Regions from separate parts of the Homo sapiens genome. Here region 2 is linked to region 1. The links come from fine-mapping of genetic effects on gene expression. A gene starts in region 1. The other region holds a variant in brackets. All regions are shown on one strand. Distances are between the middles of the regions. Region 1 holds the start of ANXA3 (annexin A3). Region 2 overlaps ANXA3 (annexin A3).

Region 1 (4,396 bases):
AAGTTTAGCTGCCTTCAGTTGGATTCCTTGTGCTTGATTGTGAAACTCCATGTACATTTTACAAGGCTCCAAGCCTACAGTCTGTTATAAAGACACATCTGCTCTTTGAGGAGGTGGTCCAGTCCTTGGTGGGGTGCAGAGGTGAAAGGCACAGTTCTTTGATTGGGAAGCCAGACACATTTTTCTTAAATAGATATTATTCAAACATGCTGGCATATCTCCAGGGTTGATTTAGAAATGCAAGTTGCTCCCACCCTTCCTGGGAACAAAATATTCTAAAAATTCCCTGACACCCCCAGAGAAAAGTTCAATGGGAAATTACACTATTAGTCTCTGGAAATATTTCACCTTGGTTTTTTCAGGCTCTCTGTAGCCTAGGGCAGTCAACTCTCCAGTTAGAGTCTAATACTGCATCTCTCTAAATACATGCTCTTTGACTTATGAGGGGTTACAGCCAGATAAACTATTCTGAAGTCTAAAAATCAGAAGTCAAACCATCTGTACAGTGAAAACAAGGCATTATTGGTTCTCATTTTGCCTCTTAAAGCTAAACACAATTTCTTTGGGCCTCAATTTCCTCATCTGTAAAAAGTGAAGAAGGGGGTGTTGCCAGCATTGAACGAGGTCAGTTTCACAGGGCTGGAGATTCTTCTTATCTGTGTGCACTGGTGCACGGTAGATATTTAAAAAAAAAACTTATTGATTAAATGAATGATTTAATACAAGCCGCACAATCATCCAGTGAGTTAGGTATTACATCTTCGTTTTGCATATGAAGAAGCTGGAGCCCAGAGAGGTATGGTAATGTCCCACAGTCACACAGCTAGTGAGTGGACCCCTACTGCATCTAGGCAGCTAGACTCTAAAGGTATGAACCTAACCCCCATGCTTCTGCCTTAATCTGCTGCCTGGCCCACACCTGACCAAATCTGACACTTAATATGCATTGATCCAGCAGAACTGGAAAATTATTAAGAATTATTACTAATCTATCATTTAACTTTTAAGATGTAAAGAATTACTCCACAGCGAAGGCCAAATGACTTAAACAGAATTTCAATATATCCTTTCCTGAAAGGGATTACATCATTTCCTTTTACTTCCTCCTCTACGGTTATTTCTAAACAGGTTTCTCTACACAACCACAGAGTTCTGGGAACAAGATTCTGGTTTTCTTTACATTTAAAAATTCCCTTTCTGGTCAGTCTGAAGTTTTCCGTCTTCGTGAAAACCAAAGGTGGTATCTTCATGGAGTAACGTTTTAATTAGTTACATTTTAAAAAATGATGTTGGTGAACATAGTAAATGTATCTTTCCCGGAGGGCAGGGTCTTGCTGTCAGTGCTGAACACAAATCCTTGGAAAGAATTCGGCCTGGGCTATGCAATTTCGTATCAGTAGCCAGAGGGGCCTCCAGCGACCCAGAACCTCCCAGCACCTGCATACTTTCCTATATATGGTCATCTGCAATCAAGTATCCAAATCTTCCACCTGGTGACTCAAATACCAAGGGAATGATTCATATCTAGTCAATAGGATTCTGTTGCAAAGAAAACGGTTAGTCTTTTCAGGAAAAAGCAAACTTCTTGAACTTCCAACCCTCAATATGCAAATCCACTGTTTTCTACCTTCTAAAAAAAATAAGTAAAATAAAATAAATTGCCTATGTGAGGGGGAGAAGATGCTCACAGGATGGGTGCGATTCCAAGTCCACAGAGCAGACCTCTGAGCCAGCCCCGTCTGCCATGCCGGGGACCCGAGGAACCTTCCGACTCCCAGCTTTTTTCTGTCCCCTAGACCTTTAGGACTGGGGAGGCCGAGATGGCTAAGTGGATCCCTTACGCTGCTAGCTGTAATAAGCGAAGCTTTCAGGGAGCGAGGACAGCTGAGTATCAGCTTGGGCCCCACCAAGACCTGGGTGACCCACCCATGGCACGGCACTTTCCCCCCCGTGGGCCCAGTCTCCTCGACTCTGAAATGCAGGACTGAGGTCCCTCCAGCTCCCCACCCACGCAGCTGGGTTGGGGCCGGGCGCGGGCGCCAGCCGCCAGCCCTGCCCAGGGTCGAGCTGCACTCGCGGGGGAACTGGGCGAGGCGCCGCGACCTCCCCAAGCCACCCGTCAGCAGGCGGCTGTGGGCGAGGCTCGCGGGGACGCGCCGGGAGGCTGAACTTACCCAAAGCGCGGTGGGGGAAACTGGTGTGCGAGTAAACTGCGAACAAACTGCGAGCGAAGGTGTCAGCCGCGGGCGCAGGTGCTCCGCGCTGGCTCCGGGTCCGGATCGCGACCGCACCCCTTCCTCCTGCCCCTCCTCCGGCCTCTCGACTCCACCTGATTGCGGCCCCAGGCCCCGGGAAAGGGAAGCCGCGCCCTGCTGCCGCCGGGCTCTATCCCTGTACACAGGCGCCCCAGCTCTGCTCCCTCACCGGTCTCTAAGCTTCCCCACCCTTTTCTCCCTACGCCCTCATTTCGCTCTCGGTTTCCACTACACCTTTACTTTCTCAAATGTACTGCAATGCTTATTTTGTTCTAGGCAGTGTGGATTCGGAGATTAGACTGTCCCTATACCTAAGGAACTCACTGCGTGGCATAGGTGGCGGACACCTAACATTAATAACATTGATCTGGCATTTACTTTGTACCAGGCACTGTTCTAACTTCTTTAAGAATATGCGCGGATTTATTAGGTTGGTGCAAAAGTAATTGCGGTTTTTGCCATTAAAATGGCTCCGACAACAACTCTATGAGGTAGATACTATTATCCCCATTTTATAGATGAGGAAATTGAGATACAGAGACGTTGGGTAACTTCAGCCAATTTACACAGAAGGTAAATGCCAGAGCTAGTGTTTGGAACCCAACTATTTCAGTAATTCCTCTACTAAACGTGTTGACCCTCTGGTATGAGGATTCCAACCAAAGGCTCAGGGAGACGGTAACCTGGAAGGGCATTCTAGGCATTTGGAAGAGCAAAACAAATCATCGAGGCTAAAAGGTTAAAGCCCTACTCGTATGAGGGAATTATGAGCAGTTGTGTGCTGAAGGATGTAGAAAAAGTTACCATGTATTGAGTATCAGGCATTGAAGTGCTTGAATACCTTACCTCTTTTATCTTCAAGGGAACTCTAGGAGGTGCTATTTTTATCACAATTTGCAGAAGAGAAAACTGAGGCTTAGAAAAGTGAAGTGATTTATCCGAGACCACGTAAGTAAAAAGTATTGCTTGCACTCAGTCATCACTGGGCCCCTTATGTATTCACCCGAAGGATTTGAAAACTTACCTCCACAAACACCTGCACATGGATGTTTATAGTAGCTTTACTCCTAAGTATCAAAAGTCGGAAGCAACCAAGATGTAATTCGTAGGTGAATGGATAAATAAACTGTGATACATCTATACAATAGAATTTTATTCAGCACTGAAAAGAAATTAGCTATCAAGCTATAAAAACACATGGAAGAAACTTAAATGCATATTATTAAGAGAAAGAAGCCCATTTGAAAATGCTACACACTATGATTCCAACTATATGACATTCCAGAAAAGGCAACACTACGGAGACAGTAAAAAAAATCACTGGTTTCTAGGAGTTGAGAGGAGGTAGGGTGAACAGGTGGAGCACAGAGGATTTTTAGAGGATAAGCATGGCTGGAGCTGCTTGAGTGTGAGTTGAAGAGATTACAGTCTTGGTCCTTAAGGCTGAGTCCTGGGACCTAGAAACTCATTAGAAATGCAAATTCCCTGAAACCCTGCGCCATCAAGTGATTCTGATGCATCCTAAAGTTTGAGAACCACTGGTTTAAGAGGAGCTACAACGGAGAAGGCAGAAGTGGTCATGCTTAAAAGGCCAGTGCCCTGGGAGCCCTCTCAGATCTACAAATCCGAAGTGATGGGCTTTCTGCAAGAGAGAAGATAGGATGGTGTTCTGCATTCTGTTCTGCATAGTAATTCCTGACTCCCATTCAGACTTCACCACAATAAACTGTTAAATCCCATGTTACCTCAAAAAATTCTGAGATTAGCATGAAATGGGGGAAAATATTTATTATTATTTGTGCCAGACACTGGGTAATGCACTTGACGTACGTGATCTATGTCATGCTTACCAACTAGCTGTAAATTAGGTATGATTGCCTCTATTTTGCAGATACAGACACAGGCTCAGAGGGACTCAGTAAGTTCTACGAGTTGTATTCCAGGCAACTAGGAAGTCATAGGGCTAGATTTATAGCCAGAAGAAAATGAGTAACAGGTGATGTTTTACATGTAGGCTTTATTTTAATTGTTTAAACCATTCAGGATTTAACTTCTTTGATTTCCTGATGGTAACTTTAACAAATGCACTTTTATCATTTTTTGAGTTTTTCTAGTTGTATCAACAGCCCAATTACCACCAT
Region 2 (4,396 bases), 38 kb before region 1:
TATATTGCTTGGTGGCAATGAAAATGTAAAATGAACAAACCATTTCATAAGGAAAATTGTGAACTCATTGTCTCAGTTTGGTTATTTTTAAACTCCCTAAAAATTGTTATTGAGCATGCAGCTTACTGGGGAGTTAAAAAATAAAAAATAAAACCTTACATCTGCCAAAGTCAACAGAGCTTTCCGGAAGTCACCAGATGTTTCGGAACTAATGTCATCTCCAAGACTCTTCTTGTATACTGAAACCAAATCAGAATGAAATTAAGCCTTGACAAACTGAAAAATATGATTATAAAACAGAGAAAAGTTTAAATGCCAACACTAGCAAAGAATGGGTATGTGATAAGATAAATCTTGCCCTTTTATTTAATTTCTTCATGCTTTTCTGTTGTGAGATGGTACATTCTTCTTGTAACTCTTACTGCACTGTGTTGTGGTAGATGCAAAAGAATAGAAAGAGTTGTCATTCTGGAGCAAATCTTGGTTTATTTCATCTGACAATGGCACTAAGGGATGCATAGTGGAAAAGCTGGGGTGGATGAGCTACTAGTGTGCCTTTCAATTTCCATTCTGGCCATCTTCCATACTAAGAGAACCCTAACCTTAAGCAAGATATAATGTACACAGCTTAAAAACTACTTTCTCAGCTTTCCTCTTAGCTAGTACAGTTCTATAACTTAGTTATTCACAATGAAATGAAGGCAGACAAATCTCCTTAAAGGGATGAGGCCATGTTCATCTTAGTCCTTCCTCCATCCAACTGCCTTACATGTGAACTGATATCTGCATCTTGGGCAGCCATCTTGGACTGTGAAGATAAGGACCACTTCTTAGTGATGGCATAAAAGTAATCAAGAAGAAGTCTGAGTTCCTAAAAGCTTTGAGTAGCTGTCATACTAGACTTAGAATTGCCAATGTCTAGACTTCTACATATGATAGAAATAAACTTCTACCTTTTGTAAGCCACTGTAATTTTTCTGTTTTATCGAATCTAACCCTAATCTTAATGAATATAATTAAACCATATTTTTTCGTATCTCCCAAAAGTAAGAAAGCTACCCAAAACATGCCATTTCCCTTTACAAATGCCAACTGTGTGTTCATATATTTTAGTACTGACTAGTTGTAGCCCCTTTTGCATGGCCTGTGATGTGCAGTGCCCATCAGTCTTAAATCTCTGTCTGCCCCATCCATGGGGTGGTGATTCTCTTGGAGCCACTATACCCTTTGTTGTAGGTGACACCATGTGGCTATCTGAACTGTCTGCACCATTCTCAAGAATTCTATAAATTAGCCATACTAGCCATGAGAATTCTCATCTATTTAAATCAATGAAAGACAATTATAGAAAGTGATATGAGATTATCCAATAGCAAGAACTGCGCTGAGATGGAAACTTCTTCAGCATGATTTTAGTAAGTCTCTTTTTTATGAAATCTGTAACTTTTCAAAGCAATTCATATAAGCAAAATCCACCAAAAAAGTGTGTTATTTTTCTAAATAATAATATTTAGTAGGCATCATTAAACCTAATGGTTGTGATATTGTTACATCTATCCTTCATTCTAGTTAGATAAAAAACTTTAAATTTGAAAATATCAAGTAGAAGAATGAATATCCCATTTCTTAGAACTTGGGGAAGTATTTTGTAATTTTGGAATTATTTAGATGAGACTTTATAAGTCATTTCACACAGCCTCTCCCTTTCCTTCAAATATTTTGTGGGATATTAGAGTAAAAAATTATTTCAACCTAAGTTGACAACTACTTTATCCATTTTGAGGCACAGTAGAGTATAAAATCAAATAGAATATTTTAATAGTACAGGTGCCTGGACTAGAACTTTGAGTCCCTGATCCCTGTTTCAGTGTTCTCTCTCTCACACACCATTGACTTTAGAATACCGAAAAAAGTTAAGAATTTAGATCTCTCTTTATTTAGACTCTATTGTGCCACTGTACTG[A/G]ATAAGCTGTAGAAGACATCTGGTCCCTTTATGAGGGCCAACATGATAGTGACTTCCTGAACCCATTGTATCTTCTCTCTTAGGGAGCGAGTGACACAGAAAAGGAGACAAAGACAATAGAATAACAAAGAACCAAAAGACTCCTGGAAATAATGAAGAAAACAGTAGCCAAGAATAACCAAAAGCTATGCACAAATATTTATAAGCCTTGGGTAGACAAACACCATGTGGTAGGGGAGGGGATGTTACTTGCTGGTGTCAAGAACATTAGAAGCAAAAAGGAAGAGGAGCAGTTACTGTCACGGAAAACATTAGCATGGGGAGCAATGGATGCCTGCTGCCGAGAGAGTGACAACATAACTGGGTCCCTCGGGTAGTGCTGTGACTTTAATCTCTGTAAAGTTTGGCTATGCATGATTGAGACAATTTCCTTCTTGATCTTCTTGTGTATCATTAATCTCTAGTAACCAAGGTAACCTTGATGCAGTTGTATCCTTTGTAGCCTCAGAGAGCATTACTCACATAGAAATTGAGGCTCTGGTAACTTTGTGCTATTATCATCTGTCATATCTGCACAACACTATCCTGAATGGTAAAAGTTTCACTTGGCTCTTAAGACCTTAACCTCAATTTTGAGGACACTCATTTAATAAATATTTGCACTTATCTGCCCCACTGTTCTTAGAACTGAGGATACAGCAGTGAACAACATAGACGAAAATCCTCATCCTCATAAAGCTCACATCCTGGAACTGTTTGTACCTAAATGCTGGGCTCCAGGGATCTGTCACAGGGCAGGTCCACTTGGGGAGCAGTGGCTCTTCTAAGAAACACCAGAAAATACCAAGCCAACTTGGGAAACAGTGCCTGGTTCTGATGGGTTTTGTAAAATATGTAAACCTTGTTGAACTGAAATATTTTAAACACCTAAAACATACTCTTTTGTGCATTAATGATTAAGCAATTCTCTTGTCTACTTCTGTCTGTACCCGCTCCCTATTAGGTTCCACCAGTACTGGGGAGTAGAGGGGACTGGAAGGCAGGAGGTGGAAAGAAGTGCAAGCTATCTGACGGCTAGTCATGTCAGTGTCAACCCAGGGAAGGCTGTTCACCCCGACAGCAGCAACTGGCTCCAGCTTCCTAGAAAAAGTCACTTTGACCCCCGTGTAGGTACTGGCTCCAGTACCTACAGATGGAGCCCTCTTTTCAGAGATCTGAACTCCTGCTCCTTAAGCCTCTGCTCTGAGCCCCTGAGGTCCCGACATCAGCCAGGTATGTCCCTCATTCTAGCTTCCAGTTTCTGATAGCCTCAACCTCTTTCCTTTGTTGTCTCAGGTCTGGGGGGTTATAACCTGCATGAATCCTTTTGTTCCCTTTTTGCTTTTTCAGTCCTCTGAAAGGTGTTTAGCAATTCTTCTTTTTTTTCCAAGACAAGGTCTCACTCTGTCACGCAGGCTGGAGTGCAGTGGCATGATCAAGGCTTACTGTGGCCTCAATCTCTTAGACTCAAGTGATCCTCCCACTTGAGCCTCCTGAGGAGCTGGGACTGTAGGCGTGCACCACCACACCTGGCCAATTTTTGGTATTTTTTATAGAGACGGGGTTTTGTCATGTTGCCTGGGCTGGTCTTAAACTCCTTGGCTCACGCAATCTGCCCACCTCAGCCTCCCAAAATGCCAGGATTACAGGCATGAGCCACTGTGCCCAGCTTAAGCAATTCTTTTGAGATGGAATCTCATTCTGTTGCCCAGGCTGGAGTGCAGTGGCACCATCTCGGCTCACTGTAACCTCTGCCTCCTGGGTTCAAGCAATTCTCCTGCCTCAGCCTCCTGAGTAGCTGGGACTACAGGTGCACGCCACCATGACCATCTAACTTTTTTTGTATTTTTTAGTAGAGATGGGATTTCACCATATTGGCCAGGCTGGTCTCGAACTCCTGACCTTGTGATCCGCTGACCTCAGCCTCCCCAAGTGCTGTGATTACAGGCGTGAGTCACCGCACCCGGCCCTTTAAGCAGTTCTTTATATTACATTCTATCTGTCAAAATACCTAGTGCTGTTTCTGTTTTTCTGATTAGAACCCAATTGGTACATCAATAACAAAACAGTCACCTGACATTGAGGTATTTACCTTCTAACAAGAATCTCCCAAAGCATCCTCTTTAACACCTACATGAGGACCAATATGTACTCCTTCTTTGGACCTCTCCCACTGCAAAAGCTGCTATGACACAACTGACCTCTGTGAGACACAAACAGAGAAACTGTGGCTCCCTTAAAGTACTTGGAGAGGGTTCTATGGGGCCATTGAATAGTAGAGAATTGGGCTGGTCTTATTCCTGATTCCTGGGAGGTAAACTCTAAATCCTTTGGATTTCCCAAGTCATAGGTGTGTCCTTGTTATTCATGGTTGGTCTCTTGGACTACAGCTCA

Evidence for each region. PIP is the estimated chance that this variant, and not a neighbour inherited with it, causes the effect.
Region 2: its variant is the best candidate, but not a certain one, in a credible set for the expression of ANXA3 in pituitary (GTEx, PIP 0.66).

The regions. Positions count from the first base shown.
Region 1 is chr4:78,549,638-78,554,033 of GRCh38, reverse strand. It overlaps ANXA3 (annexin A3), which reads right to left and starts at 2,264. Exons shown (of 13, transcript NM_005139.3): 1 at 2,175-2,264. RefSeq lists enhancers at 645-1,844, 1,148-1,899.
Region 2 is chr4:78,587,387-78,591,782 of GRCh38, reverse strand. It overlaps ANXA3 (annexin A3), which reads right to left. Exons shown (of 13, transcript NM_005139.3): 7 at 160-239. Among named protein-coding and RNA genes, the nearest start is that of ANXA3, 38 kb to the right of the region's middle. The variant A/G (reference allele first, on the strand shown) is at 1,964.